Linked DNA regions of Homo sapiens. The protein of the gene in region 1 purifies or fractionates together with the protein of each later gene. This does not show direct contact. Each region holds a gene or a part of one and is shown in the gene's direction. Other genes may lie near its edges.

Region 1 (7,131 bases):
CTCACCATTGCCTGACTAGCACCAGTGGTGGTGATGGTCGACAGAGCGTATGTTTTTAACAATTAGCCTATGTGTCTCTTAACCTTCAGCCTGACCAGGGATACGCTGACCTCCCAAAGATGTGAGACTGTACCAAATGGAGGACAAAATCAAATCTAGGCCATGATGAATAGAGGGTTTAATTTCTGTTGGACACAAGAGGAACAGAAAAAGAAGCCAGCAGCTGGGTGCATTAGCTCATGCCTGTAATCCCAGTACTTTGGGAGGTTGAGGGGGATGGATTGCTTGAGCCCAAGAGTTCAAGATCAGCCTAGGCAACATAGTGAGACCCCGCCTCTACAAAAAACAAAAAATTAGCCAGGCATGGTGGTGCACGCTTGAAGTCCCAGCTACTGGGGAGGCTGAGGTGGGAGGATTGTTTGAGCCCAGGAGGTCAAGGCTGAAGTGAGCCATGATTGTTCCACTGCACTGCAGCTTGGATGACAGAGCAAGACCCTGACTCAAAAAAGAAAAGAAAAGAGACCAGAAATTATAGTTAACAGTGAAAAGTAAGGAAGGAAGGAACATAGAAAAGCAAATATGACAAGGAGAGAGGGGTAATTGGAAGAAAAACACAAAGAATGGTACAGATAAAAATTAAAAGATAGACTGTATTCCATATACTACTCAGATCCTGTGTGGAAGGAGCCATGATATCTATGATAATTTACTGACTCCACTCATGGCTTTATTAGGCATCTGAGATGCTTTCAGAATCCAAGAGATGGCCAGGTGCAGTGGCTTACACCTGTAATCCCAGCACTTTCAGAGGCCAACTAGGGCAAACAGCTTGAGCCCAGGAGTTCAAGACTAGCCTGGGCAATATAGAGAGACTCCATCTCTACAAAAAATACCAAAAAAAATCCGAGTGTGGTGGCTTGCATCTGTAGTCCCAGTTACTCGGGAGGCTGAAGTGGGAGGATCTCTTGAACCTGGGAGGTGGAGGTTGCAGTGAGCTGAAATCATGCCACTGCATTTGCACTTCAGCTTGAGCGACAGAGCAAGACATTATCTCAAAAAATAAAAAATAAAAAAAATAAATAATCCCAGTTTTGTAGGCAACATGCAAAGCATTGTGGGCAGGGGCCAGCAGAGCGCATGCCTCTTTCTCTCCATCAGGCCTGCTCAGGGTGTAACCTTGGCCACATCAGTGTCAGAGAGCCTCTTCACAGCCTCTTTGGTGCTTGCCGGCCCTGGCATCCACAGTGAACACCAGTGTGTGGTTGTCTTCTATCTTCATAGCACATCAGTAGTCAGGGCTTGATGATGGCAGAGTGGTCAAACATGTGGGAGCACTCTTCCCGGGATACTCGGGCTGCCTCTGGAGCCACAGTGTCTTGAGCTGCTGGAGGTAAGTGACATGCAGGTCTTAGGGGTGTGTGTGTGTGTGTGTGTGTGTGTGTTTGTGTGTGTGTGGTTGTGGATGCCTTTCAGCCCTGCCTTCTTGGCCTTTAAAGACTTTGCTTTGGCTTTGACTTTAGGAGGGACAGGAGCTTCCTTCTTCGCCTTCGGTGCCACCTTGTGAAAAAAAAAAAGCTAAACCCAATGTTTTTTAAAATTGCCTTAAGCAACTAAGCTAAGGAAAAGGAAATGATTCAGCGGTCAGCAAGCAAGTGAACAAAATGAACAAAGGTGTTTGTGTTGGACTCCATAATAAGTGAAGTTTTTCCTACTTGCCCTACTCTTTAGAAAATCGCATTTCAAAATCATGCTTATGAAACCTTTCATTGCAGGGGACAAAGCATGTAACTTGATGATCTTCGACACTCGAAAAACAGCTAGACAACCCAACTGCTACCTATTTTTCTGTCCCAACGAGGAAGCCTGTCCATTGAAACCAGCAAAAGGACTTATGAGTTACAGGATAATTACAGGTAATGAAAGCATTATACTTTTTCTTTTGTGATTGGAATAATTTAAGACTGGTTCATGTGAAAGATTTTCTACAAGAGTCTAAATAAAACTACCAGAAGGGGTACCAGACATATCAGAAAATCTCATGACTGGAAATTCAATTTATTAAACCAAAATTTGATTTCCAATGAAAGCCATGGTAGTATTTGTTCTGGTTTGTTTCTGTTTTTACCTTCATGAGATAAAAGACACACAAACCTTGTATGAAACGTTTTTGAAGCACCTCTTTAGAACAAGGTCGGCAACACTGGAATAAGTATACAGGTCTCCAGGGTGATTGTTTTGAAAGGGTGAAGACTTGTGTTAATATAGAAAGTTCTAGTATATTTGTTATTAAGTTCCCATTATAATCACATTATCTGAAATCAAACTTTTTATGGCCATACCACCCTGAACGCACCCAATCTCGTCTGAAATCAAACTCACTGGATTTTATTGTCTAGACTGGAAAGGAAATTCATTCAAGAAATATTTATTAAACATTTACCATGTGCCAGATTCTGTCCAAAGCACTAGAACTACAATCTCCATGTTCATGGAACTTACATATTAATTCAGAATGGAAAATAAATAGCAAAAAAATTAATATAATTCCTGGGATATGTTTTGCTGAGACTTTGGCTTGTTAATTTTTCAAGTTGAAGTGGTTTCAGTATCAATTTTTCTTTTTTTTGAGATTATCCATATAAAAAAGGTGAAAACAAATTAATGTTGCTTAGGTAATTCTGTGGACCCTTCATAGACAGTATTTGCATAAAATCAGAATTACAGAATTTAGTGGGGTTTGTTGTTGTTGTTGCTTGTTTGTTTGCTTTTTCCGAGATGGAGTCTCACTCTGTTGCCCAGGATGGAGTGCAGTGGTGCGATCTCGGCTCACTGCAAGCTCCGCCTCCCGGGTTCAGGCCATTCTCCCGCCTCAGCCTCCTGAGTAACTGGGACTACAGGTGCCCGCCACCACGCCCGGCTAATTTTGTTTTTGTACTTTTAGTAGAGATGGGGTTTCACCGTGTTAGCCAGGATGGTCTCAATCTCCTGACCTCGTGATCCGCCTGCCTTGGCCTCCCAAAGTGCTGGGATTACAGGCATGAGTGTTGTTGTTTTTTGAGAGAGAGTCTCACTCTGTCGCCCAGGCTGGAGTGCAGTGGTGCGATCTCAGCTCACTGCAACCACCACCTCCTGGCTTCAAGCAATTCTCATGCCTCAGCCTCCCAAGTAGCTGGGGTTACAGGCACCCACTACCATGCCCAGCTATTTTTTTTTTTTTGTATTTTTAGTAGAGATGGGGTTTCACCATGTGGGCCAGGCTGGTCTCACCTCCTGACCTCAGGTGATCCACCCTCCTTAGCCTCCCAAAGTGCTGGGATTACAGGCGTGAGCCACTACACCCAGCTTCAATTTTTCTTTTATTTAAGTTTTAGAAAGTTATCATCATACTCTTGATTTTTAATATTCTACTTGTTCATTTGTTCAATAAATAACAAATATTATTTAGCATCTCCTATGTGCCAAGTACTTTCTATGCCCTAAGGAAACAACACTAAACATGAAAAACAAGGTTCTGGCCATGTGGTAGCTCATGCCTATAATTCCAGCACTCTGGGAGGTGGGAGGATCACTTGAGCCCAGAAGTTAGAGACCAGCCTGGGCAACATGATGAGACCTCATATCCACAAAAAATTAAAAAAATTAGCCGGGCATGGTGGCATGAGCTTGTAGTCCCAGCTACTTGGGAGGCCAAGGCAGGAGAATTCCTTGAGACCAGGAGGTCAAAGCTGCAGTGAGCTGTGTTCATGCCACTACACTCTAGCCTGGGTGACAAAGTGAGATACTATCTCTAAAAAAAAAATAGGAAAACAAGGTTCTCCCTTCTGGAACTTATGTTTTAGGGGAGAGAGACAATAACCATAATAAATAAATAATCAAGAAAAATATAGTCACAAGTGCTATGCACAGAATTGAGACAGGACGGTATAATAGACAATCAGTAAGTAAAGTTGTAACCCCTAAACTGAGATCTGAATAGTGAGGAGCCAGATGTGAGGAGATCAGGGGAAGACCTTCCAAGTCCAAGGTCCTCAGGCAGAATGCTTTGGAGTGTTTGAAAAACCAACACTCCAATCCCAGCTGGTTGACTCATTGTGAAATACGCAGAGAGTGATATGCAAAACGGTGGGGAGGGCCAGATCACATAACACCTTGTAAGTCATAGGAGGGAGTTTTTTTGTTTGTTGTTGTTGTTTTTGAGACAGAGTCTCACTCTGTTGCCCAGGGTGGAGTGCAGTGGCGCGATCTCAGCTCACTGCAACCTCCGCCTTAGGAGGGGCATATGCCACTACACGTGGCTAATTTTTGTATTTTTAGTAGAGATAGGGTTTCACCACATTGGCCAGGCTGGTCTCGAACTCCTGATGTCGGGTAATCCACCCACCTCGGCCTCTCAAAGTGCTGGGATTACAGGCATGAGCCTCCGTGCCCGGCCGGGAGTTTTTAGGTGTGTGGTGGGAAGCTGTTGGGAGTTTTATTTTTATTTTTTTTTTGAGATGGAGTCTCACTCTTTTCACCCAGGCTGGAGTTCAGTGATGCAGTGTCGGTTCAGTGCCACCTCTGCCTCCCAAGTTCAAGTGATTCTCCTGCCTCAGCCTCCTGAGTAGCTGGGACTACAGGCAAGCATCACCATGCCTGGCTAATTTTTGTATTTTTAGTAGACATGGTCTCGCCATGTTGGCCAGGCTGGTCTCAAATTCCTGACCTCCTGACTCATGTATGTAATCCCAGCACTTTGGGAGGCTGAGGCGGGCAGATCACAACGTCAGGAATTCGAGACCAGCCTGGCCAACATGGTGAAACCCCGTCTCTACTAAAAATACAAAAATTAGCCGGGTGTGCTGGTGCGTGCCTGTAATCCCAGCTACTCAGGAGGCTGAGGCGGGAGAATTGCTTGAACCCAGGAGGCAGAGGTTGCAGTGAGCTGAGATTGCGCCACTGCACTCTAGCCTGCACGACAGAGCAAGACTCTGTCTCGGGGAGAAGAAAAAAAAAAGGTGATTTCTCAAAGCTCACCGTAGCCGCCCTCTTGGGAATGGACAGTGACACAGCAGCAAAGTGGAAATGGAAAGACTGGTTAGGAGGCGCAGGTGAGATCTGGGTGAAGAAACAGGGAGTGGCGGGCGAGATGGAGAGAGTAGTGGACATATGGGCTATTCCGAAGTAGAGTTGACAGGACTTGCTGGTGGTGTGGGTCTGGGGAACCAGAAAAAAAGAACCATCAAGGCCAAGTCCTAGTTTTTGCCTTGAGCATCCAGATGAATGGTGACACCATTTGCTGCACTGGGGGAAACTTGAGTAGTTTTAGGGTTGTGGAATGGAATCTAGGTGGAGTGGAATCTAGGGTTCTCTCTTGACTGCATTAAGTATGAGGGGCTTCGGGGAATGATACTGCCCAGGGTGCCTGCGTGTTGACACTGCTTTGCCCCCTAGCTGAGGCTGTGTCTGAGTTTTGTTCATGTGCCAGGGAAGCCTGATGGGTCAAACATCCTCTCAAACAGGAGCGTGAAGCACAGAGTATTGTGTAAATAATTGTTGTTAGGATACGATGATAGAAATTACAGCTGAATTTGTTTTCTAATACTTCTGGAGTGTTGTTACTTTTGTAATGCACATATAAAAGAGCATGTATGGGATGAAGTTCCTTGCCAATGGGAACGGAAAAAAGGGAACTTGGCATGTGCATAAATCTTTTTAGGGCGAGTGTGAAGGTAATGAAGTGAAATTAGAATTAAACTGTTCTTGTGGCAGCCACCAGGGGGCGTTGCCGGCCCCTGAGCAGGTTGATGGACACCTAGGGGCAACGTGGCACCAACCCCGGACATAGTATGCAAAGGACTGTTTATATCTACAGGATGTGTGCAAGTTGTGTTTGTAATTCTGTGTATGAATCTGTCCATGTTGATGAATTCATATTACCCCATTAAAAATGAATTATCTGCCTCCTGCCTGGAGTGAAATTAAATACAGATTATCTGTTTGGTGGTTTGTTTCTGGAAGAACTCTATTTCTTTTTCTTTTCTGTCTCTCTCTCTCTTTTTTTTTTTCTTTTTTTTTAAGGCAGCATCTCACTCTGTTGCCCAGGCTGCAGTGCAGTGGCGCGATCATGGCTCACTGCAGCGGCGCGATCATGGCTCACTGCAGCCTCCACCTCCTGAGCTCAAGCAGTCCTCTCCATTCAGCCTCCCAAGTATTTGGGACTACAGATAATGCACCACCATGCCAGGCTAATTTTTTAAAATGTTTTGTAGCAATGGGGGGGTCTCAGTATGTTGCCCAGGCTGGTCTCAAACTCCTGGCCTCAAGCAATCATCCTGCCTCGGCCTCTCAAAGTGCTGGGATTACAGGCATGAGCCACCGTGCCCAGCCTCTATTTCCTATATCCCATTGACTAATATTTACGGACCAAGAGTTTGAAAGATGACAGTGGATTCTGTTCATTCTCTAAAGCCATTGCAGTTTGGTATTTAATCTTTTATTGTTGTTGTTGGCAGCTTCATGGCATGTCATTTTTACCAAGGACTGGAAGAATAGGAGAATTCAGACATAGAATAAATTGGGAGTCTGTTTGCTCAGCTGGGGTCCCAGTAATAGTCAGTCTCTCATTTTTCAACTCAGTGAAGTCGTTTGAAAATAAAACTCCAAAGAGGAGTTAAGGGCGCTGAGCTGCTTTGCAGCTCCCTTTGTGGCTCATCTCTGCGTGACTGAGAGGAAGCACCATGCCCCAATGGCAAACATGAGTGGGTGAGGCGAATGGAGCAGGTGTGGAGGATCCCTTTGTGGTTCTAGGACCTCTGCCAACAGAGGAATCTTATCAAGAAGTGGGACTGGCCCTAGCTTTGCTTTATTTATGAGCTTGCATGCTTGAGAAAGAAAACAGCTGTTTTGGCCATTCTTGTCAATGGCCATATTTAAGTTCTGATTTCACACACATCACAGAGTGTTTACTTAAACAGTCTTTTTCTTTTTTAACTTTAAAATGAATTATAGGCCAAGTATGATGGCTCACACCTGTAATTCCAGCACTTTGGGAGGCTGAGGTGGGCGGATTGCTTGATTCCAGGAGTTCAAGACCAGCCTGGGCAACATGGCAAAATTCTGTCTCTACAAAAAATACAAAAATTAGCTGGGCAT
Region 2 (7,510 bases), on another chromosome or scaffold:
CCCAGTTCCAAAGTCGCTTCCACATTTTTGGGTATCTCTTCAGCAGCACCCCACTCTACTGGTACTAATTTATGGTACCAAGTTCATTTTCACGCTGCTGATAAAGACATACTCGAAACTGGGAACAAAAATAGGTTTAATTGGATTTACAGTTCCACATGGCTATGAGGCCTCAGAATCATGGCGGGAGGCATAAGGCACTTCTTACATGGTGGCAGCAAGAGAAAAATCAGAAAGAAGCAAAAGCAGAAACCCCTGATAAACCCCATCAGATCTCGTGAACTTACTCACTATCACGAGAATAGCATGGGAAAGATTGGCCCCCATGATTCAATTACCTCCCCCTGGATCCCTCCCACAACATGTGGGCATTCTGGGAGATAAAATTCAACTTGAGGTTTGGGTGGGGTCACGGCCAAACCATATCACATAGTTTTCACTGCCCACATGAAAACATACAAATTCATCAGAAAAGTAAATTTTGCTTTTTTTAGATACAGGGTCTCACTCTGTCACCCAGGCTGAAGTGCAGTGGTGCAATCATAGCAATCACTGCAGCCCCAAACTCCTTGGCTCAAGCGATCCTCCTGCCTCAGACTCCTGAGAAGCTGGAACTACAGGTGCATGCCACCACACCCAGCTAATTAAAAAAATGTTTTTTGTAGAAATAGGGTTTTGCTATGTTGCCCAGGCTGGTCTCAAACTCTTGGCCTCAAGTAATCCTCCTGCCTTGGCCTTCCAAAGCATTGAGATTACAGGCATGAGCTGCTGCACCTGGCCAGAAGTAAATATTTTATTGATATTTAGTTTTGACATAAAGTTCTCATGTGGGATTTCCTATTGTGAACAAATCCTCATTTGTTCCTATTGTGAACAAATCTCATGTGGGATTTCCTACTGTGTACTTGAAGAGGTATTTGACTCTATTTGAAATCCCACATGAGCACTTTATTTCAAAGCTGAAATAATTGGTCTAAAATAATTTGGTCTTTATATTCTTTATACACCTTTATACTCTTAAAAATTTTACTGAGGATACAATAGAGCTTTTGTTTACATCAGAGTTTCTCATCCTTGACACTACTGACATTTTGGACCAAATAATTATTTGTTGCGGAGGTTGTCCTATGTATTATATTTAGTAGCATCTTTGGTCTTGACCCACTTAGATGCCAGTAGCACCCTCCCAATCAAAATTATCAGTTGGGCATGGTGGCTCATGCCTGTAATCCCAACATTTTGGGAGGCTGAGGTGGGAGGATTGCTTGAGCCCAGGAGTTCAAGGCTGTAGTAAGCTATGATCATGCCACTGCACTCCAGCCTGGGCAACAGAGCAAGACTCTTATCTCTAAAAAAAAAATTAAAAAAAAAAAGCCCTCCAGATATTGCCAAATGCCAAATGTCTTGCGAAGGGCAAAAATCACCCCTGGTTGAGAACCAGTGGTTTACACTGCTTATATCTACCAATATTTAGCATATTAGAAATGAAAACTAAAGAACTTTAAACTTTTTATGAATTCATTTGAAAATAAAAATTCTTTCATAACACATTAACATATTTTTATTAAAAAACTATCTTTTCCAAACCAAAAAAAGAAATTTAGCAAGAAGGGTGCCAATGATTTACACTTTTTGCAAATCTTTTTAATGTCTGGCTTAACGTGAAACCAGATAGTGGCTCCTCCTTTCTGTTTCTGCATTCAATCTAGTGATATGTTGTTTTTGTTGAAGTATATGAAGAAAATTCAGGCTAACTTAGACATGTAGTAGGAAAAGGGAGTATATTTTAATATATATTGATCTTATGTTTAAAATATATTTAACTTTTCAGCTAGTTACAGATATTCTTCTCTGATGCTAGACCACATTTGACAAGTTATGCAGTTTCTTAATGTCAGTTGCAATACAGACTCTGAAACCCTATCAATGACCTTTTCACACTGTTAATTAAAATCCACTATCACTTAGTTTTATCCGCTATCACTTTTGCACTTATCAACATAGTAAAATAGGCAAATATTACATTAATGTTATTATAAAAACAGATTTGTTGAGGATCCATTGAAGGGCCTTGGGACCTGCATGGTCCATGGAGCACAATTTGAGAACCACTGCCTTAAAGGATGAACAGAGTCTGACAAAAGTGGTAAGATTTATCATTTATTTAACATTTGGAATATATGAATTCATAAAAGCAACACTACAGAGGACAGTTTGCTTTCTCAGGACACTCTTTCAAAAGCTTATTTAAAATGCAGCTGACCCATATAATGTAAAGGTTTTTCTGGCAATTCCTTCAAATAATTTAGGTGGGAAAATTCATGTGACAAGCTTTTCAAACTGAACTATTAAACATTTAACTTAAAAGCTGCATAATAACTAAAGTTAAACCTGTCCTTTAAGTCTGGTTAGTGAGTTTATTTAAACATTATAATGTAAAGCACTGAGGAATATTACGTATGACAGGGAAGAACCAAAAGGCTCTGATAACAGACTTTCTCATTCAAAATGTTTAAAGTAATGATTACAGAATTTGAAGTAGAGTGGACAAAAACGAAGAAGAAATGCCTGAACTTTTGAAAGAATTAGGTATATACTGCTATTCAGGAAGCTATGGTGTTAATTATAAATTTTCAGCCTGAACAAAAATATGTAGGTGGTAAAAAAACTAGGTAGGTAGAATATACTAGGCCTTCTGTTTTATTAGTGGAGGGCAAGGCATTTAAAATACAGTAGTACTACAACAACAAAGGTGGAAAAAAGCCTGGGAGTTTTTTCACCAAAATGTTAACAGTGGCTATCTCCGGATGGTAGCATTCCTGGGGTTTTTTCCTTTTACTTATCTATTTTCTAATTTTTCTAGAAGAAACAGCATATACACGTAATACAAATAAAATAATATTTTATGTAACTTCTTACATCATAAAAATTAAAGTAACAGATTATCAAAAAGCAGAGGATTCAACATAAGCTTTATATTTAAGTGACGTGTTAACAATGGCAGTTTTGGTGAGTTTAAGAGTAGAAACTAAGATGAGAAGGAAGATCCGGTTTCTTCTTTACCGAAAAGAGACATGATAGATTGGAAAATGTCTCGTGGCTCAATCGTAAAGAAAAATAAGGAATGAATATGAATAATTTATGACAGACTAACTGGAGTGTGAAAGGGAAAAAAAAAGCTGAAGCAGGGAAGGGAACTCGACCCCTCGGCCAACAGTGAAGCAGAAGAAAACGCGGTAAATTGAGTCTTTAAGACCTAGTCTATTCCAGTCTATATAGAAGACCCCCAAGAAAAAGAAAGACTGCTCATTGGCCTGAGAAATTACCTTAGATTCATGACAAGGAAGGCCATTTGCCCGCAAAATTTAGCTACACTGGACGGGCAAGTACCCCTACAGAAGAGAAAACGTCTGTGAGCCCACACGACCGGCTGCTCACCTCAACAACTTGCACAGGCACCAGCTCCTTTCGCCGGCCGCCATCTTCCGCCGACCCCCGAACTCAGGAAACGCTTCACTTTCCTTTTCCCTATTGGCTCCTGAGAAAGCAAGCCGTGCTCGCCCCGCCCCCACGGGCCAATTGTGCGTTACTATTGGTTACTGGTAGCCGCTTCCCACGGCCTTCCAGCCAATAGAATATGCCGAGGCGTAGACTAGTGTTCGGCGTGGCGCACACGGCTCCCGCCCCCGTGGGCGGGACAGCAGTGGGGGGTTGGGCTGAGGAGGGCGTGGCCTGTGATTGACAGCCGTCGCTCCCTCCCTCGGCCACCTCCCCCACTAGAAGCCCCCGCCTGGGCGCCTGCGCCCCCGTTCCCGGCCCAAAGCCCGCCGCCCGTTGGAGGCCATTGGCTGGCCTTTGCGCACAGCGGATCGATTTTCCAGGTGCGGAGTTCACTCTTGCCGCGGTTGCTTCCTTTGGGACCCACGGCGTCCGGCAGCCAGGCGCAGAGTCCGAGGAGGGGGCAGCGCAGAGCGGACCCGACGCGGCGCCGCCGGGCACCTTCCCCGCAGGCGGTGGGTGAGCCCTGGGAGCTGAGTCTGCGGCCCGGCTCTGCGCAGCTCACCTGCCCTCCCGCTCCCGCACACGCGTGAGATCCCAGTACAGTGTCGGAGCGCACCAGCGCGAGGTGGCCGAGACCGCGGAGGAGGACAGGCCTCCGCCCTGCGGCGCCGGCACGGCAGAGGACATTGTGGCACTGGCACGGCAGAGAACACTGTGGCACCGGCGGGGCCGGCAGTTCCAGGGTGGGCACTCCCAGCCACCTGGGGAGTGGGCGAGGGTCCGAGGCCCACTCTCCCCTCACGCTCTCATCCCCGTGCCCCCAGGTCGGGAGGACGGCGGCGCGCAACTTTGAATCATCCGTGTGAAGAGGGCTGCGGCTTCCCCGGTCCCAAATGAAGGGGCGGTTCCCGGACCCCTGTTTGCTTTAGAGCCGAGCCGCGCCGATGCCCTCACACTCTGCGCCTCCTCTCCCGGGACTTTAACACCCCGCTCTCCTCCACCGACCAGGTGACCTTTTGCTCTGAGCCAGATCAGAGAAGAATTCGGTGTCCGTGCGGGACGATGCCTGAGCAGGAGAGACAGATCACAGCCAGAGAAGGGGCCAGTCGGAAAGTGAGTTTTGTTCCCCCGCGTCCGCGCAGCGTGCTCACTCCCACCAGGAGGATTTTCCTCCCCGCGTTCGGCGCTTACTCGCCCCCAGGGGGTGCGCAGGGAAGGCCGAGCCAGACCCCAGCTCCAGGGATGTCTTGGCGTGGGAGAAAAGGACCCTTTAGAAAAAGTGTGCCGTCAACTGATGTTTGGGAGCAATGGAAAACCCCGCACCTCAAAATTCATCTTTATGCTTTTAAGGGGTCTGATGCTGGAGAGATAAAGTGAGCGTCGAGTTGCTGTGCTAGAGCCCTAATGGCTCAAAACGATGAAGTTAGTTACCTGGAGAAGTTACTCAGAGCCTGGTGCTTGGACCAGATATGGTATATCGAGGTCCTGGAACTTTTATAACTGTTTTAAATTCATTTTAATTGTACAAGTAATACATTAAGACAGTCTTTTAAAAATGGAAACAGCACAGAAATATTTTGCACAAAAAGCAGATCTATTTTTCAGTCTTTTTCTATTCACGTACATATGTCTTCATTCGGCAAATATTTATTGAGAACTTTCTATGTTTCAGGCACACAGTGTTGAGTTGATACAGTGGTTAACAAGACATGTATCTATATGTAATATGCACACATTCAGAGAAATCTTTAGGTTTCATTTGTATGAGGTGTTAAAATTTTTGTTTTACCTAAATGAGATCACTGTATGTGCATTCTCTTTTTTCAGTTTAACGATATATCTTAGAGATTGTTTCACTAACTGTCTAATTCAGTGCAACCTCTGCACAGTTTGGACGCATCATAGTTTATTCATGGTTTCCTAGTGGTGGACGTTCTGTTTGCTACTTTTTTTCTCTCTCTCTTGCAAGTGAACATCTTTGTACATGATTTTTAATGCTGACACTATTTCTTTAGGATAGATACTTAGGCCTGGATTGCTGGACAGAACAGTAGGCTGTTTCTTTTCCACAGATTTCTGAAACTAATTCACTGACGTTGCTGGGTGCCCTTTAGTAGTGAATTCATCTAGGCTCCGGTGATACAGAAATGAAAACTAACGGATTAGTGGACAGACAGAGAGAGGCTGGTTAGTAGGTGGTTTGTAGGGTATGATGACTATGCATTTGATAGGAGTATGAAGAAATGTTGGGAGGGGTGGCTTGTACAGAGGAGATTTCAACTTCCTACAGTGTCCCCACCTAGAGAAAGAAATCATTATCCTTCCAAATCAAGCTCAAGACCTGCCACCTCCTTGAAACGTTCTGTAACTGCTCCTGCCCATGTTGACCTGTCTTCTGGAATCCTCTGATAATAGCGTTGACCAGCGTTATTGAGCTTACTGTGTGCTGGGCATTGTGTTAGGCACTCATATCCCTCTATGTGCACTCTCGCGTTTAATCCTCACAAAAACCCTTTGATGTAGGTATTATATCTTGTTATCAACATTTATTCAACAAATTTTTTTGTGTGTACTATGTGCTCAAACACATAGTACTCAAAGTTTTAGACACTGGGGATTTAGGTAGGACCGAGACCTTGCCCTCATGAATTTACATCCTAGTTGGAGATAGGAAAAAAAAAGGGATAAACAAATGTATAGCGTAGGAGTTAAGGGAAAACTTTTGTGCCCCGTGAAGCGTCACTGAAAAATCAACTGACAAATGGCAGATTAATAGGAGAGAAGGCATACACATTTACTAACGTGCCGTGAGAGTCTTACAACATAAGATCTCAAAGGAAGGCAAGGTGGTTGCCACAATTATACTATCCTGAGGTTACAGAAAGTGTGGGGGCTCTAAGCTTGGCCAAAAACAGGTTATGGTTGTAAATCAGGTTATAGGAGGGAGAGAAGAGGAGACCTGGCTAGCAAAGGTGGTCTTATGTAGATGAAACCTCACAGGTAGCAGCCCTCAGGGAGAAGAAATGTTTCAGACCTTGAAGGTGCCAAATTCAGCTAATCTCACCCAGATCCAGACAAGGAAGGGCCCTCTGAGAAAAACTGGCTGCGTCAATGGAGGTTCTCAACAGATGCTCATCTCCCTCACAGTAGGACTACTTTTGTCTGTAGGCCCTCTGAACGGCCATCTCAAAATATTTCCAATAAGTCTGTTTTGAGGTGAAATGTTTTAGTTTCCTTCAATAGCTTTATTTCAGGTACTAGTAAGTACTATGAAGAAAATAAAGCAGTTTGGGTCCAGGAGTTCAAGACCAGCCTGGCAGCATATCAAGACATCGTTTATACAAAAAAAAAAGAAAAATTAGCTGGGCATAATGGTGTGTGCCTGTCGAACCAGCTACTCGGGAGGCTGAGGCAGGAGGATGGCTTGAGCCCAGGAGTTTGAGGCTACAGTGAGTTGTGATCCCACCACTGCACTTCAGCCTGAGTGATAAAGCAAGATCCTGTCTCAAAAAAAAAGAAAAGAAAAGAAAGCAGAATAAGGGAATAAGATAGGGATTGACATGGGTGGAGAGGAAGATGCTGTTTTAAGTAGGTGGTCAGGGAATGATTTCTCTTGGAAGGTAGGATTTGAGTAGAGACCTGAATGATTCAGATTTCAGAGAAGTAGCCTAGGTTGAGAAACCATAAAGTGTGAGAGTCCTACGGCAGTCATGTGATAAGAAGAAATATATACTTGGTCTTGTCCCAAGTTCCTGACATAGAGCTTCTTAAACCGTTGTAATTTCCTGAGAGATGGTGATAAGAGCATCTTTTGTTATTCATAACAAGTCTCTTTCACCCCTACCTGAGTTTCTGTTAATGAGAGGGCTCTTGATAGGCCCCTAGATAGCTTCAGGATGGAGACTGATTGCCAGAAGAACCAACCATGTGATTAGGGGATTCGAATGTTCAGCCCCGTGCTCCAACCTCTGGAGATTGTGCCAATCACCAGTGGACAATGATCTAATCA
Region 3 (7,131 bases), on another chromosome or scaffold:
CTCTGAGGCAGATTTGGTCAAGGGGGCAACTGAGGCAAGGAAGTAGAGTCTTCTAGTCTAAAAATAATGAGCAGCATTATTATTGAACATTAACTACAAAACAGGCGCTGTTCTGGATTTTTTTGGTGCATCTTCTCACTGGTGAGAGGTTGGTGTCATTATTACACCCCATTTAACAGATGAGGAAACTGAGGCCCAGGGAGGCAGAGTCACTGGCCCAAAGGCATACAGCTCATCAGTGGTAGAGCCAGGATGGAGCACAAGCCTTTTAAGTCATGAGCTAGTCCTTTAACCACTAAGCCAGCACCCCAGGATTGGGGAGACACTCAGTCCTGGACTATGGTTGTGGCCCATCTTATCCTGCGAAAAGGGCAGGGACCCTTCCACCTGCCTCCCCCAACTCACCCAGAAGACAAATCACCGCTTGCTTTTGAAGAAACGGGCTCAAAATGTGGAGCATCCCTTCGAGGAAGCTCCTGTCCTTTCCTCTCCCTTCCTCTCCCACCCTCTTCTCCCCTCTAAGTTCCTGAACAGCCACGGGGTGGGGGAGGGGCATGGGGAGAGTGGGGTGCAGGTCGGAGAGGGAGGTGCCTGCTGCATTCTCACCAGACCCCTAGCCCGATAGGATCTGGAAGTCAGGCTGTCCTGATGACGACACCAGCTGCCCTTGAGGGCCCTGACATGGTCACTGGGCCAAGGGGCAGGCTGGCCTATTCTCAGAGTCGAAAAGGACAGGAATTCTTCATGTTCTGCCCATGTGAATGACCGTCGAGACAGGAAAAACCTCCCAGTGACTTCTGAGCGGTGATGGAGGCCATCAGAGGGCCTGATCCCCTTGCCCACAGCAGCAGCTTCAGACCCCCGGGGGAGGAGCCCAGGAATGCCTCCTTCTTGCCACCTGCTCTGCCCTGACCTCTCGCCCTCTTCAGCACAGTAAGGAATGTTCATATTTGTCCCTAAAGCTTTGGAAATGTTTCTGATGAAAGGTTGGGCTTTCCTCTGCCTTTCTGGAAATTGGGCCCCTTCAAAAAGAAAGAGTAGGAAGATAGGACCTGTGTGCCAGTCCAGGCTGAGGGGTGGCGGGTCTTGGGGATGAGGCAGCTTGAGCTGGGGCCCAGCAGGGACCTGGAGTGTGGCCGCTGTGAGGCAGGGCTGGGAGGGGCCCTAGAGACCACATTCTCATTTTCTTAGACAAAGAAACTGAGCCCCAAAGACAGGGCCTGGCTTACCAGTGATGGCAGAATCTGCCTGTGACCTCAGCTGTCCTGTCTCCGAGCCCAGTGACTCAGGACACACTGCCACCTTCCAGCTCCAGGACAAACCTTCCACTACCAGATCTCAGGGCACATGTTCCTGGAGGTTCTTGGAAATGGGGCGTGGAACCTTTCTCAACTGCAGAGCTGTGTCATGGAGACGGGGGTTGCCACTGCCACGGGACTCGCATCCTGCGCCTGCCTCTCCCGGCCAGTTCCGCTCTGTCCTCACTCTTTGCAGCAGCCTGGACACTGAGCCCAGTGGTGATGCTGAGATGATGAGGAAGACGGATGCTGCAGCTCCGCCCTCCACTGGCTCAGGATCTGCTTGAGAGACAAGACTGACTAAGGCAGCCCCAGCCTTTGGAATAATGATGCTCTCGAGGGATGGCCTGATAGCAAGCCAGCTGGAGCCAGCCAAGGCCCATCCACCGGGTAGCCTCGCCTCAGCTTCCTCCTTAGCTGTGGGCCTCCGATGAAACCTGCACCCCAGAGGCCGCTGTGAGGATGTCAGTAGTGCAGCCGCTTTCATAAAGCCTCTTTTGTGTCCCATGACTTCTAGATTATCTCTCTAGCCCCCGGACAGCCTTGTGACTCAGGGACCACCGCCCCATTTACGGTGGAAGGAAGGGAGGCTCCTTCAAAGAGGAGTTTGTCTGCCCAAAGGCACGAGCCTAGTAGTGCAGAGCCAAGATCTGAACACAAGTCCCTTAGTCCCTAAGCCTCTCCAGTACAGCCATTGACAAGTGGATTCACTGCCTGATGGCCCAGGCAATAGATTCTGGGCTAGGGGATCTCTAGACTCCATCCTGCCCAAGGGGCCGACGGCAGCCCTGGGAGGGACCGCAGCTGGAGCGGATGACGCAAGCTCTGGACCTTCTATTCCGTCCCGCCCTCCAGGGAGCAGAGATTCTTTCTCCTGCCTCCCCTTCTCTCTGGCCGGGGGCCTGAGGCTCTGGCTCTCACTGCCAGCACCCCGCCCCCCAACTCTGTGTTGCCCTGTCCCAGACCCCATTTCCAGCTATTTTGTACTAAAGCGATAACAGAACAATGGGTCTCCCTGCATCCCTCCCCAAGTCCTGCTGGAGTCGCAGGGCCTTAACCCAAGGGAGGCTGGACCCCAGAGAGGAGTCCAGATGCTGGCGACCACCAGGGACTTTCCGGGGGAGTTGCCATGGGGAAGATGGGTTAGAGCTCAGTTCACGTCCACCAAACGCCCCCCCACCCCCACCACCGCACACATTGCACACACACATCAGCTTCTCTTAGGATGTCCAGTTAAAGAACAGTTACCTTGGCTTGAATTCCAGCTCTGCCACTTACCTCAAGGGACACTCGAATAAGTCACATGAGCCTTCGTTTTCTCATGTGTAAGATGGGGGTGATAATATGGCCATTCTCATAGGGTTGTGGTGGGGATAGCAGGGGATTCATGGTCTTGAAGTACTTGCCCCGCTCCTCCCAGCCCCGGGGTAGGTGGCCCTGGGGGCAGTCTTCCTTATGAGGGGTGGAGGAACAGGTGTGCTGCCTGCCCCTATCACAGAAGCTCTTGTTTGGAAAGGCAGTGGCTCCTTGGCTGAGGTGTGCAGCAGCAGTGACTCCCCCTTGACTCACAGGGAGGCTTGGCCACTGATGGATGTTCTGGGCCCCTTCCTCTTCCCTCCCTCATCTTCCCCACTCCCCCAGCCAGTCAGGTTTCCTAAGCCAGCCCTCACGGGCATAGTCTTCATGCTGGGGACAGCTCGGCAGTCCATCTGTTTCTATAGAAACCAGGCTTCCTGGGAAAGAGACAGGGGGTTGGGGAAGTCCTCCAGGATCTGCATGGGAATGACGCCTCAGTCCCATCTGATCTGGCCAGGGCAGAGCCTGGGCAGCCACCTTATTCATGTTATTAATTGCTGTCCTTTACAGAGTACACACCAGAGGCCAGGCTCCTCAGCTGCACTTTCTTATCATCACACATCACAAACCTGTGGGCTTTGTACAGAAGTAGTAGTCTGGTTTCACAGATGAGGACATAGAGGCTCAGAGAGGTTAAGTAACTTTCCTGAGGTCACAGAGCAATAAAGAGGAGCAGGGATTTGAGCCCAAGTTTTCCCAATCGTTACAAATATGCTTACCACCTCCCTGTCTGTCATCCTCTTCTGACTCTTGTATCCCCAAAAAGCCCCTCTCTTCCTGGCTGGTTTAGTCTTGGGGACTTTGCTTGTTCCCGCCTCGCCCCTGGGAAGCATGTGGAGGTGCTCTTCCCTGGCCTCAGATTCCACAGCAGATGGGGAGGTGGGAGGGACTGCAGGGAGTCAGATCTTGGCTGAAGAGGGCCTCTTAGCTCCTCCCGACTCATTCATTCAATCACAAATGCCTGTTGAACTCCTCCTGTGCCCGGAGTTGTCCCAGGCTCAGAGAACAAGACCCAAAGAAATCCTTGCCCTGGGGCACTCCCCTGCGAGTGATGCCACAGCTTTCTGAGGAGGTGGGGCAATGTCAGAGGCCAGTGTTCTCATCCAGTCCTCTAACCTTCACGGCTGTCCAGACCCCCCACTGCCAGGTCCTCTGCCAAGAGCATTTGCACCCCATCTCCTGGAGTCTTCAGCACCCCATGAGTAAGGCAAGTAAGGCGCTGTGGTGTGATCCCCATTGTATTGAGGGCTGAGACTGCTCGCTTAAGGCCACCTGACCAACAGAGAGTGGCCACTTTTGAACCCAGTTCTGCCTAATTGGAAAGCCCTTTCCTGCCCTATGCCACCAGCTTCCATGTGGCCTGGGGCACAGCCTCCCCTCAGCCCGCCACGTCTAACCTGTGGGCTTCTGAGTGTGCTGGTTGGGCTTAGCCTGACAGCTGCTCATTCCACCTGTGTTGACAAAGTGCCTGCTGTGCACCCCAGCCTCACGGGGAGATACACGGAGGAGCACAGTACAAGCCATACCTTCAGACTGGTTGGTCTTGGGGAGTCAAACTGCCGTGAAATGACCAGGAGTAGAGGCTATAAGTGGCCAGTGGCTGCAGACACTGAGACCCGTGAGAGTCCAGAGGAGGATGAGGACCCAGTGCCCTGGGAGGGCCCTGGGAAGAGGGGCTGTGTGCAAGATAGCCTGGAGGAACAAGGAGCATGGTGGGGGGACAGAGTGTCCCAGGGACCTTCTCACTTGTGTAAAGGGTCAGCAATGAGAACCACTGTTGAAAGGTTTGCTGGCTGATCGGGAATGTGGGCGAGAGCAGCTGGCAGGGCAGAAGGGAAAGGTTCAGGATCCCAGGCCTGGGCCCTAGGAGCCATGTCCTCCCTTCTTGCCAGACAGGTGATGTGGGTGGAGGAGTGGCTGTCCTTGCTGCCCCTGCCCCCAGCCTCCTGCAGCCTGGCTCCTGGGGGAAACCCCCGGGGGCCCTTCAGAAGGCAGTGGGGCAGAGCAGGAAGCTTCACAGCACTGATGGCAGGCTTTTTCCACTGTGCACGGCTGAGTGGAGAAAGGGAAGTGGAAGGAGGGCCAGACTCCTCCCTGGGCAGGGCACTTTCCCCATGGGTGCCCACGTGCACTCCTTCTTTCTCTCTCCACCAGCACGTCTGCGAGGTGAGCGTTCTCACTACCCCCATTTCACAAGAGGGGAAACTGAGGCTAGGAGAGGTGTAGTGACTTGCACAAAGCCATGCAGCTGGCAAGAGGGCAGAGCCAAGACTCAAACCCAGGTCCCCTGCCCCCAAAGCCGGGGTTTGGCCATAGTGCACGGTGGAGTCTTCTGTCCTCACTTAGGCCTGAAATAAACACCTGGAGTGGCCCTGAAGGGGAGGAAAGGTCAAGGGGAGACCTCAGGGGTGTGTGCAGCTTGCCTCGCCAGTGGGGCAGGTGAGGGGCTGCTGGGTGGATCTGATCATTGCAGGGCCCAGTCCTGGGGGTGAAGTAGGGGTGGAGCGCCGTTCTCAGAGCAGTTATCTGTGCTGGAAGGTGGGTGTGGGGCCCTCCTCCCTGGAGGTCAAGATTCCATTTTCTCTGTGGGGCCACATGGGCCCTTTGTGAGTGATGCCCTCCCTGCTAGGGTGGGCTTGGGAGGTGGGCACAGTGGTTCCCACCAGCTCAGATGTCTGATGGCAGTGCCCGTGGATGAAGATTGTCCCACCCATGAGTAATTCTGTCCAGGACACTGTAGTGCCCACTCTTCCCAGCCCCAGCAGGTGGGCACTGACACGTCCCACAGCCGTTGATTTGCAGCAGCTGTTGTTGACTCCGTCCTGGGATGCAGAGGGGAATGCTCTGTGTGTGTATGTGTGTGTGTGTGTGTGTGTGTGTGTGTGTGTATGGTGTGTGTGTGTGGTGTGTGTGTGGTGTTTGTGGTTTGTGTGGTGTGTGTGTATGGTTGTGTGTGGTGTGTTGTGGGGGTGTGTGTGTGTGGTGTCTATGGTGTGTAATGTGTGGTGTGGGTGTGGTGTGTGGTATGTGGTGTGTGTGATGTGTGTGGTGGGTGTGTGTAGTGTGTGGGTGTGTGTGGTGTGTGGTAGGTGTGTGGTGGGTGTGTGTGCGTGGTGGGTATGTGTGGTGTGTGTGTGTTTTGTGTGTGCATTGTGTATGGTGGGTGTGTGTGATGTATGTGTGGTGGGTTTGTGTGGCGTGTGTGTGCACGTATTGTGTGGTGTGTGTAGTTTGTATGGTGTGTGTGTGGTATGTGTGTGGTGTGTGTGGTGTGTATGTGTGTGGTGTGTGGTGTGTGTGTGGCGTGAGTATGGTGTGTATATGTGGTGTGTGTGTGTGTGTACTGTGTGTGCAGTGTGCGTGTGTGTGCATGTGTTGGTGGAGAGGGGTCAGCAGGCAGAGGAAAGCAATGCATCCAATGCCTGGAAGCTTCTGCCCCTCGGAGGTGGGCCGTGGACACAGCCTGGGCCTGGTGGGCAGTGGCTGAGCGCCAGCCTTGTGCCCGGGGACTGAGATCTGGGGCTTTGCCCAGTGGGGCGGAGAAGTTAAGAAGTGTTAGTTAGATCCATTTCCTACTCCTCCATGGCCTCCATCCTGGTGCCACTGCCACATGGGAGGCCTGGGGAGGGTGGCAGTGTCTGTGTCTGATAATTGCCTGTCTTCACTGGGGACTTGCTGTGGGCCAGGCACTTCCCCATGGCTTCATGGAGATTACAGCTTTTATTCTCACAGTATCTCTATAAGATAGGACACCTTATTTTCCCAACTACACCTGGGAAGACTGAGGCACGTAGAGGTTAAGTGACTGACCTGCCCACGGGCACACAGCCAGGCAGTGATGGATCTGGGATTCAAATCCAGGGAGCGTCCTCAGCAGTTAAGCACTTACCCATTAGGCCTTCTGGCTTGAGCAGTGAGCTGGCTCTTTCTAAAGCACTGTCTGTCCATTATTTTGTTTCTCCTGAGACCAGCTGTAGGGGAAAAGTGAGGTTGGCTGTTTTCGTTTCACAGATGAGGACCCCGGAGCTCAGAGAGGAAAAGTAACTTGCTCTAATCAGTGGCTAGCAGATCAGCGCCCCCTCCCCCGGCCAAGGCTGGGAGCTCTTTCAGGATAGGGGGCCTGTCCCACCACCCATGTACCTTGCTCACAGTAGACCTCACTAAGTGCGGATTCCTCAGGCAAATGTGCAGGTGTTTTGCTGAGTGCTCTGAGCTTTTCTTTTTGCCCCGGGCTCCCTAGGAAGTGGGAATGATGGCTCCATTTCACAGATGAGGAAACCGAGACTCAGAGCACAAGGCCACACAGCAGGAAGAGGTAAGGCAGGACTGAGGGAGGCAGCACGTCTGGCCTGGGAGAGGGGTTAACCAGCCAGGAGGAGCTCGTAGAAGGGCTGAAATAAAGACCGACCTTACCGAGTGTTGGTGAGGATGTGGAGGAACTGGAACACTACTGCATTGCCAGGGACACGCAGTGGCA
Region 4 (7,131 bases), on another chromosome or scaffold:
AGAGGTTGCAGTGAGCCGAGGTCGCACCATTGCACTCCAACCTAGGCAACAAGAGCAAAACTCTGTCTCAAAAAAATAAAAATAAATAAATAAAACCACTTGGATGGGAATAGACATAAAACTTTAGGTAGGTGAATGTACAGGAAGTATTGTTATGTAAATTAATAATCAGCATTTTCATATTTCATAGAAATAGCAGGCAAGAGAGTACCTCTGGGTTTAGGTAGTTTCTGGGGAAAAAAAATGAACTGAGGAAAAGTTGCTGTCTCAATGCTAGCTGTCAAGAGATGCTTACTGGGTCCAGGCACCGTGGCTCATGCCTGTAATCCCAGTCCTTTGGCAGGCTGAGGAGGGCGGATTGCTTGGGCCCCCAGGAGTTAAGACCAGCCTAGGCAACAAAGCAAGACCCTGTCTCAGTTTAATTAAAAGAAATTTGATATCTTTATTAATTTTTTTTAAAGAGAAGCTTACTGGAAGAACTTGTGGGGAGTGCTTTTTGTGCCCCTAATCTGAAGTTATTTATCAAAACCAGTCTCTGATTCCAGCCCCCACCACCTACATTTCCCCTCCCAGCTTACAGGAAACCCCTCCCAAGGCCTTTATACTGTGGTTTGGGATTGTGTAAGGTTCAGTAGAGCCCTTTGAGGTGGAAGACTTCCCCTTCCTCACCAGCATTTCACCTTTAGGGGCATGAAACTGACTCTCTGTGCCTCCTCCATTCTTCACCCCAAGTACTATGTGACTTAATCTTTTTATCCTTGGGTGAGGCAGAGAGAAGGTATCCCTAAACATACAAGCACTGTGTATTCTTAGTATGTTGTGTGAAGGGGCAGGGTGTGGGGTAGGGCAGAGGAATTATCTCTGTCATGGCTATGAGGGGGTTACTGATGTGATGCCTATTAGAGTAAGCTAAAGATCATCATATTAATAACCATTAGCGTAGATTTAACATTTCTTTCTCCACCTCTTATCCTTCTTTCTCCTTTGTGCTCTCCCTTTCTCTCTGTCTTTCCTCCCTTCCCTGTCATGATCTGTTTCAGGGAAGCTGACTCCACCCATGTGTTCAATCCCACCAGTCTTCCCTCCCAAGTCTGGAAGCCCCACGACCTCTTGGTCTCATCTGGTCACAGCAAGTTAGAGGTGGAAAGAGCTCAGCACGGGGCCCTTCTGTTTACACATATACTGCCCATAGCCAGGAGTTACTGCACAAACACTAGCCAGCCTTCTACACTACATTCCTTTTCCAAGACTTTTCTGGGTTAGTTTGCTTTCCAGCCCACTGATTTCCTTCTTATTGGACAGGTCACTCTTTTGCATCCCAAGCCTGGCTTAGGCAAGTCCCTGAGGTTAGTAAACACCTTCAGTGCCCCTCAGCCAAGTCCCTTTTGACCATGGAATACCATCAGCCTGAGGATCCAGCCCCTGGTAAGGCCGGGACTGCAGAAGCAGTCATCCCTGAAAACCATGAGGTTCTGGCAGGCCCAGATGAGCACCCTCAGGACACAGATGCAAGAGATGCTGATGGGGAGGCTAGAGAACGGGAGCCAGCAGACCAAGCTTTGCTGCCTAGCCAGTGTGGGGACAACCTTGAGTCCCCTCTGCCTGAAGCTAGCTCAGCTCCACCGGGGCCAACCCTTGGGACACTGCCTGAAGTAGAGACAATAAGGGCATGCTCCATGCCCCAGGAGCTTCCTCAGTCCCCCAGGACCCGACAGCCTGAGCCAGATTTCTACTGTGTCAAGTGGATCCCTTGGAAAGGAGAACAGACACCCATCATCACCCAGAGCACTAACGGCCCTTGCCCTCTCCTTGCCATCATGAACATCCTCTTTCTTCAGTGGAAGGTAAGAGAACATGCAGTTAGGGGTGCAAAAAATATCAGGGAGTACTCTTCCCTGACTTACTTCCTTGATCATCCTGATGTCCTCAAACTAGTCAAAACTTTTCAGATTGTTCTCCCTATTTCTCCAGCTTGAGCAAATGAGATAAGATGTTCCTAAAAACAAAGAAAAAAAAAAAAGAGGAAGATCTGTCCTACCCCTGTATCTCCTACTCCCTAGCAAATGCACATGCCTTGCAAGATTTCACATTCATTCCCTTGTGCCAGTTGCAAGCCTTTTTTCCTACCCCACCCTACTACTGGAGCTCCCCCTTGCCTTTCCATGGGTTCTTCCTTCAGTGCTCTTTGGAGGAAAGCACACACGTGATCACCCCTTCTGCCTCCAGGTGAAGCTCCCCCCGCAGAAGGAAGTGATCACATCGGATGAGCTCATGGCCCATCTTGGTGAGTGACTGGGCGTTGAAGAGGAATTACCCAAGGGGCTCCAGAGCTATCCACTCAGCCAGAAATCCAGACTATTCAGGGATCTCCATTTGGGGGTTCTGATACAGCAGGGAGGGTAAGGGTCTATGGGGCTTCTCTGCAAGGCTGGAGAATGAAAAGCAAAGGCGTCGGGAGTCCTGGGTTGTAACACCAATTCTGCCCTTAGCTTTTGTATCTGACCCTGGGTGGGCCGTTCACCTTTATGAGGCTGTCGCCTCCTCTGAGAAATGAAGAGTCTGGATTAGACTCTAAGTATTTTCCAGCTCTGAAAATCTGTGTTCTGTGACATTACCCGCATTCTCCAGGAGAAGAGGAAACTTAGCTTTTGGGATGATTGGTGGGGTAAGCTGATAAGGGGCCCTGTCTTGTAGGAAACTGCCTCCTGTCCATCAAGCCCCAGGAGAAGTCAGAGGGACTTCAGCTTAATTTTCAGCAGGTGAGGCAAAAGGTCTGCAGGCATAGGGGTTTGCAGGTTTGTAAGGGGACATCTTGTAATACTAAGATAAGCTTTTGTTGCTTCTTCAGAGGTTTCCTTGAACCATGATTTCATTCTGCAGGAGTCAGAGGAGAGTTTATCTTTGTCCTAGAAAATATGTTCATTGGCCGGGTGCTCACACCTGTAATCCCAGCACTTTGAGATGCCAAAGCGGGAGGATCACTTGAGGCCAGGAGTTCGAGGCCAGCCTGGGCAACATAATAATACCCCTGTCTCTAAAAAAAACCATTTTTTTTTTCAAGAATTAGCCAGGTATGGCGGTGCGTGCCTGTAGTCCCAGCTACTCAGGAGGCTGAGGTGGGAGGGTCACTTGAAACCAAGAGTTTGAGGCTGCAGTGAGCTAGGATCACACCACTGCACTCCAGCCTGGATGAAAGAATTAGACTTAGACTCTCAAAGAAAAACAATGTTCATTTATATAAGATAGAGAAGGGTTGAGGCAAGGGAGAAATGGAGTGGCTTGTAAGAGAATCAGGGAAGAAGAGCAGCAAGGTTAATTTTTAATTTCTGCAGGTGGGAGTGGAGTGGTGGGAGAGAAGGCTAGAATCTCCATCATTTTTTTTTCTACCCCCAGAATGTGGATGATGCAATGACAGTGCTGCCTAAACTGGCCACAGGTCTGGATGTCAATGTGCGATTCACAGGCGTCTCTGATTTTGAGTATACACCCGAGTGCAGTGTCTTTGACCTGCTAGGCATACCTCTGTACCATGGCTGGCTTGTTGATCCACAGGTGAGGGTGGGAGGGCCCACTGGGACCTTATCCAGCTCAAGCTGACATGAGAGAGGCAAATTTTTGTCGGGTAGAGGTTAGGGAGTTAGGGGTTAGATTGGCTTGGGAGGGAAATAGTGTTTAGAGACTGGACCCAGTACAGAATTCCTTGAATTTTAATCTATTTTGGGGGTAACATGCAAATACAAGCAAACTACATGCAAATAGGTCAGTTCTTTAGACATCAAAAATTCAGGAAGCAGATGGGTTTGGTGGCACATGCCTGTATTCCCAGCTACTTGGGAGGAGTTCGAGGCCAGTCTGGGCAACATAGCAACCCTATGATGAATGGTTCCTGAAATTTTTTTCTTTTTTGAGAGACCAAAAAAAAAAAGTGTTTAGGAACCATTCATCACAGGGTTGTAGTCCTTGTGAGCTTTGTTCATTTCCTTCCTTAAAAAAGAAAAAAAAATCCCAATTTTTTTGGTATCCCACATCCCACTACCCAAGCAGAGTCCTGAGGCTGTGCGTGCAGTTGGGAAACTGAGTTACAACCAGCTGGTGGAGAGGATCATCACCTGCAAACACTCCAGTGACACCAACCTCGTGACAGAAGGTGACATTCCTCCCCTTCTCATGGATAGTATGTGGAGGGAATGACAGCTACTTAGGCTTATTTTTTATTGGGTGTCATCTCCTACCACATCCCACTAGATATAAGCTTCACAAGAAGGAGCTTGGGGAATTTCTGTTTAGTTCATTGAGGTATCCCCAGTGCCTGGCACAAGGTAGCTGCTCTATTATAAGTATTTGTTAAGTGAATGAATACAGCCAGGTTTCAAGAAAGGGACGTCAGAAGGTGGGACTGACCCCCCGGGGCTTTTGACAGGGGCTCTCTGGATGGTCCTTCCTGTTGTGGACCTTGAATTTAAGCCAAGTTTCCCCCGACTCGTCCCTTTCTGGCAGGCCTGATTGCAGAGCAGTTCCTGGAGACCACCGCGGCCCAGCTGACCTACCACGGACTGTGTGAGCTGACAGCAGCTGCTAAGGAGGGTGAACTTAGCGTCTTTTTCCGAAACAACCACTTTAGCACCATGACTAAGCATAAGGTAATGCGAGTTTGGGGGTGGCGTGCTGCGGTGCTGTCATTTCCTGGTGCCTTTTTCTCGTGGGTCCAGCTGGGATCAGCTAGATTAAGCCGTGGTAGCAAGTGACCCCTCAAATCCCTGTGGTTTACCACAACAAAGGTTCATTTCCCGCTCCTGGTGCGTGTCCACTGTGGACTGGCTACGGTTCTGTCCCACACCATCTTCACTCTGGGACCCAGCTGACAAAAGATCCTTTATCTGGAATATATGTGGGAACAGAGAGAGAGAGGGGCACTGTGCACTCATGCTTAGAGCTTCTGTTTGGAAATGACACATGTCATTTCTGCTCACATCTTCTGGCCAGAGCAAGCCATAAGGGATAAGCCTGCCGTCGATGGGACAGGAAAGTATGATCCTCCCCTAGGAGGGGGCAGTGGAATTTTTAAACAATGCTGGTCTTCAAAAGTTAGAAACTGCCAAAGCTCTCTAGGATTTGAGCAGCAGAGGGAGGGGTCTCTGGTTCTCAAAGGATTTATCCTAAGAGCCATCAGGCAAGCCCAGAGAACAATGGGAAATGGGGGGAGCAGGGTCTTATGTGGCATCTCAGCCCCAACGACTCCATGCCACGCTTAGCCAGAATGACCACCGTGCTCACACCCAACTGGACATACACTCAGACATCCCTTTCTTCCCCCCAAGGCCACACATATTTGTAAAAGGTCCGCATGCTCAGGGTCCGGGTGCGGTGGCTCATGCCTGTAATCCCAGCACTTTGGGAGGCCGAGGCGGGCAGATCATGAGGTCAGGAGATCGAGGCCATCCTGGCTAACACGGTGAAACCCCGTCTCTACTAAAAAAATACCAAACATTAGCCAGGCATGGTGGCGGGTGCCTGTAGTCCCAGCTACTTGGGAGGCTGAGGCAGGAGAATGGTGTGAACCTGGGAGGCAGAGCTTGCGGTGAGCAGAGATTGTGCCACTGCACTCCAGCCTGGATGACAGAGCGAGACTCCATCTCCAAGAAAAAAAAAGTCCACATGCTCATACCGAGATTTCTGGCAGTGAACTGCCTCCGTATCAACTGTCCCCCCAATGAGCTCTGTTCTTTTCTTTGTAGAGTCACTTATACCTACTGGTCACTGACCAGGGCTTTCTACAGGAGGAGCAAGTCGTATGGGAGAGCCTGCACAATGTGGATGGAGACAGCTGCTTTTGTGACTCTGACTTTCACCTGAGTCATTCCCTGGGCAAGGGGCCTGGAGCAGAAGGTGGGAGTGGCTCCCCAGAAACGCAGCTGCAGGTAGACCAGGTGTGTAGGGCACTTAGGAAAAGTGCAGAGAGCACATGTGCCTCAGAGAGCTTTTTACTGCATACATTTTAACTGCTAGAGGCCATGTGAACCCATGCCTCTCTCTCTGGGTTACCTCAGACCGTCTCCTCACTTGGTGTGTATTCTCTGGCACCACAGATAATGCATTTGGCTGTGTGTGCTGCTCTGTGGGGAGAAAGAGCTAGAGAATTTGAGGGATGTGGGAAAACTGATTTGGAAACCTTGCCTGAATAGCCACGGCTCTGGGCCTCAGCCCACTGCACAACTCTTGTTCTCCCCAGGACTACCTGATTGCTCTGTCCCTGCAGCAGCAACAGCCACGAGGCCCGCTGGGGCTTACCGACTTGGAGCTGGCCCAGCAGCTTCAGCAAGAGGAGTATCAACAGCAGCAGGCAGCGCAGCCAGTGCGGATGCGGACGCGGGTCCTGTCACTGCAGGTGGGCTGCTGCCTGGGCGCCCACACTCCCGGTTTCCACCTCATGCTTTGCCGGGTCCAGAACACCTGTTATTCCTGCACTGGTCTCTTCAAGGTTTCTTCTCTCAGAGTCCTTCCCCTGCCTGTCCCTCTCCCCTGGAGCCCCTTCCTGTCTTCCTCTCCCTACTCTCTGTCCCAATCCTGACACCCCTTCTTCTAGAATCTCTTCTTGTGCTCTTCCAAGGAAGTTCAGTGACCAATTGTTAAATCCGATACAGGGGAGAGGAGCCACATCTGGACGCCCAGCCGGGGAGCGTCGGCAGAGGCCGAAGCACGAGTCAGACTGCATTCTGCTGTAGCTCTGCCCCAGTGCCAGGCTGGCCTGCCCCTTCTTCCAGAGGCTATGGCTAGTTGGCTTGCTCCCCCGCCTCCACCCCTGAGATGTGCTGGATAACTTATTTATGGACTGTTGGGGATGAGAGCAGGCAACAAATGCCAAGGTCAGACTTGGTAATGTCCTTGACCTCACGTGCTGCTGCCTTCTCTGCCTCCCATCCAGGGCAACACTAGGATTGGTGGGTTTCTGGTTCTCAACTCCCGGTCCCTGAATAGTCACACGTATGTACAGACTGAGGCTCTGGGGTGAGGTCCCTATCCAGAATGCATCTCTTCTGCTTCCCATCCCTGCTGCCTGGATGCTCCTGATCACCTAGGCAGGCCTGTCTCCAGTTGTTTCAGAGCTTAATTTGGGTTTCTATCTCTTATTTG

What was found.
Region 2: the proteins of MANSC1 (region 1) and ATP7B purify together in Homo sapiens (affinity purification with mass spectrometry; 2 studies listed by BioGRID and IntAct, with this or other methods). This does not show direct contact.
Region 3: the proteins of MANSC1 (region 1) and TP53I11 purify together in Homo sapiens (affinity purification with mass spectrometry; 2 studies listed by BioGRID and IntAct, with this or other methods). This does not show direct contact.
Region 4: the proteins of MANSC1 (region 1) and MINDY1 purify together in Homo sapiens (affinity purification with mass spectrometry; 2 studies listed by BioGRID and IntAct, with this or other methods). This does not show direct contact.

What each region holds. Positions count from the first base shown.
Region 1 is NC_000012.12:12,333,202-12,340,332, reverse strand, and holds part of MANSC1 (MANSC domain-containing protein 1 isoform 1 precursor), read left to right. Parts: intron 1-1,772; coding exon 1,773-1,913; intron 1,914-7,131.
Region 2 is NC_000013.11:52,008,391-52,015,900, reverse strand, and holds the start of ATP7B (copper-transporting ATPase 2), read left to right. Parts: upstream 1-4,450; 5' UTR 4,451-4,563; coding exon 4,564-4,614; intron 4,615-7,510. Other genes in the region: ALG11 (GDP-Man:Man(3)GlcNAc(2)-PP-Dol alpha-1,2-mannosyltransferase), read right to left, coding at 3,439-3,482. UniProt on the Homo sapiens protein: Copper ion transmembrane transporter involved in the export of copper out of the cells. It is involved in copper homeostasis in the liver, where it ensures the efflux of copper from hepatocytes into the bile in response to copper overload.
Region 3 is NC_000011.10:44,940,841-44,947,971, reverse strand, and holds part of TP53I11 (tumor protein p53-inducible protein 11), read left to right. Parts: intron 1-6,894; exon of another isoform or gene 6,895-6,969; intron 6,970-7,131.
Region 4 is NC_000001.11:150,996,878-151,004,008, reverse strand, and holds part of MINDY1 (ubiquitin carboxyl-terminal hydrolase MINDY-1), read left to right. Parts: intron 1-1,040; exon of another isoform or gene 1,041-1,302; coding exon of another isoform or gene 1,303-1,391; coding exon 1,392-1,844; intron 1,845-2,179; exon of another isoform or gene 2,180-2,226; coding exon 2,227-2,284; intron 2,285-2,694; coding exon 2,695-2,759; intron 2,760-3,393; coding exon 3,394-3,552; intron 3,553-4,041; coding exon of another isoform or gene 4,042-4,044; coding exon 4,045-4,147; intron 4,148-4,497; coding exon 4,498-4,640; intron 4,641-5,735; coding exon 5,736-5,927; intron 5,928-6,229; coding exon 6,230-6,385; intron 6,386-6,641; coding exon 6,642-6,722; 3' UTR 6,723-7,131. UniProt on the Homo sapiens protein: Hydrolase that can specifically remove 'Lys-48'-linked conjugated ubiquitin from proteins. Has exodeubiquitinase activity and has a preference for long polyubiquitin chains. May play a regulatory role at the level of protein turnover.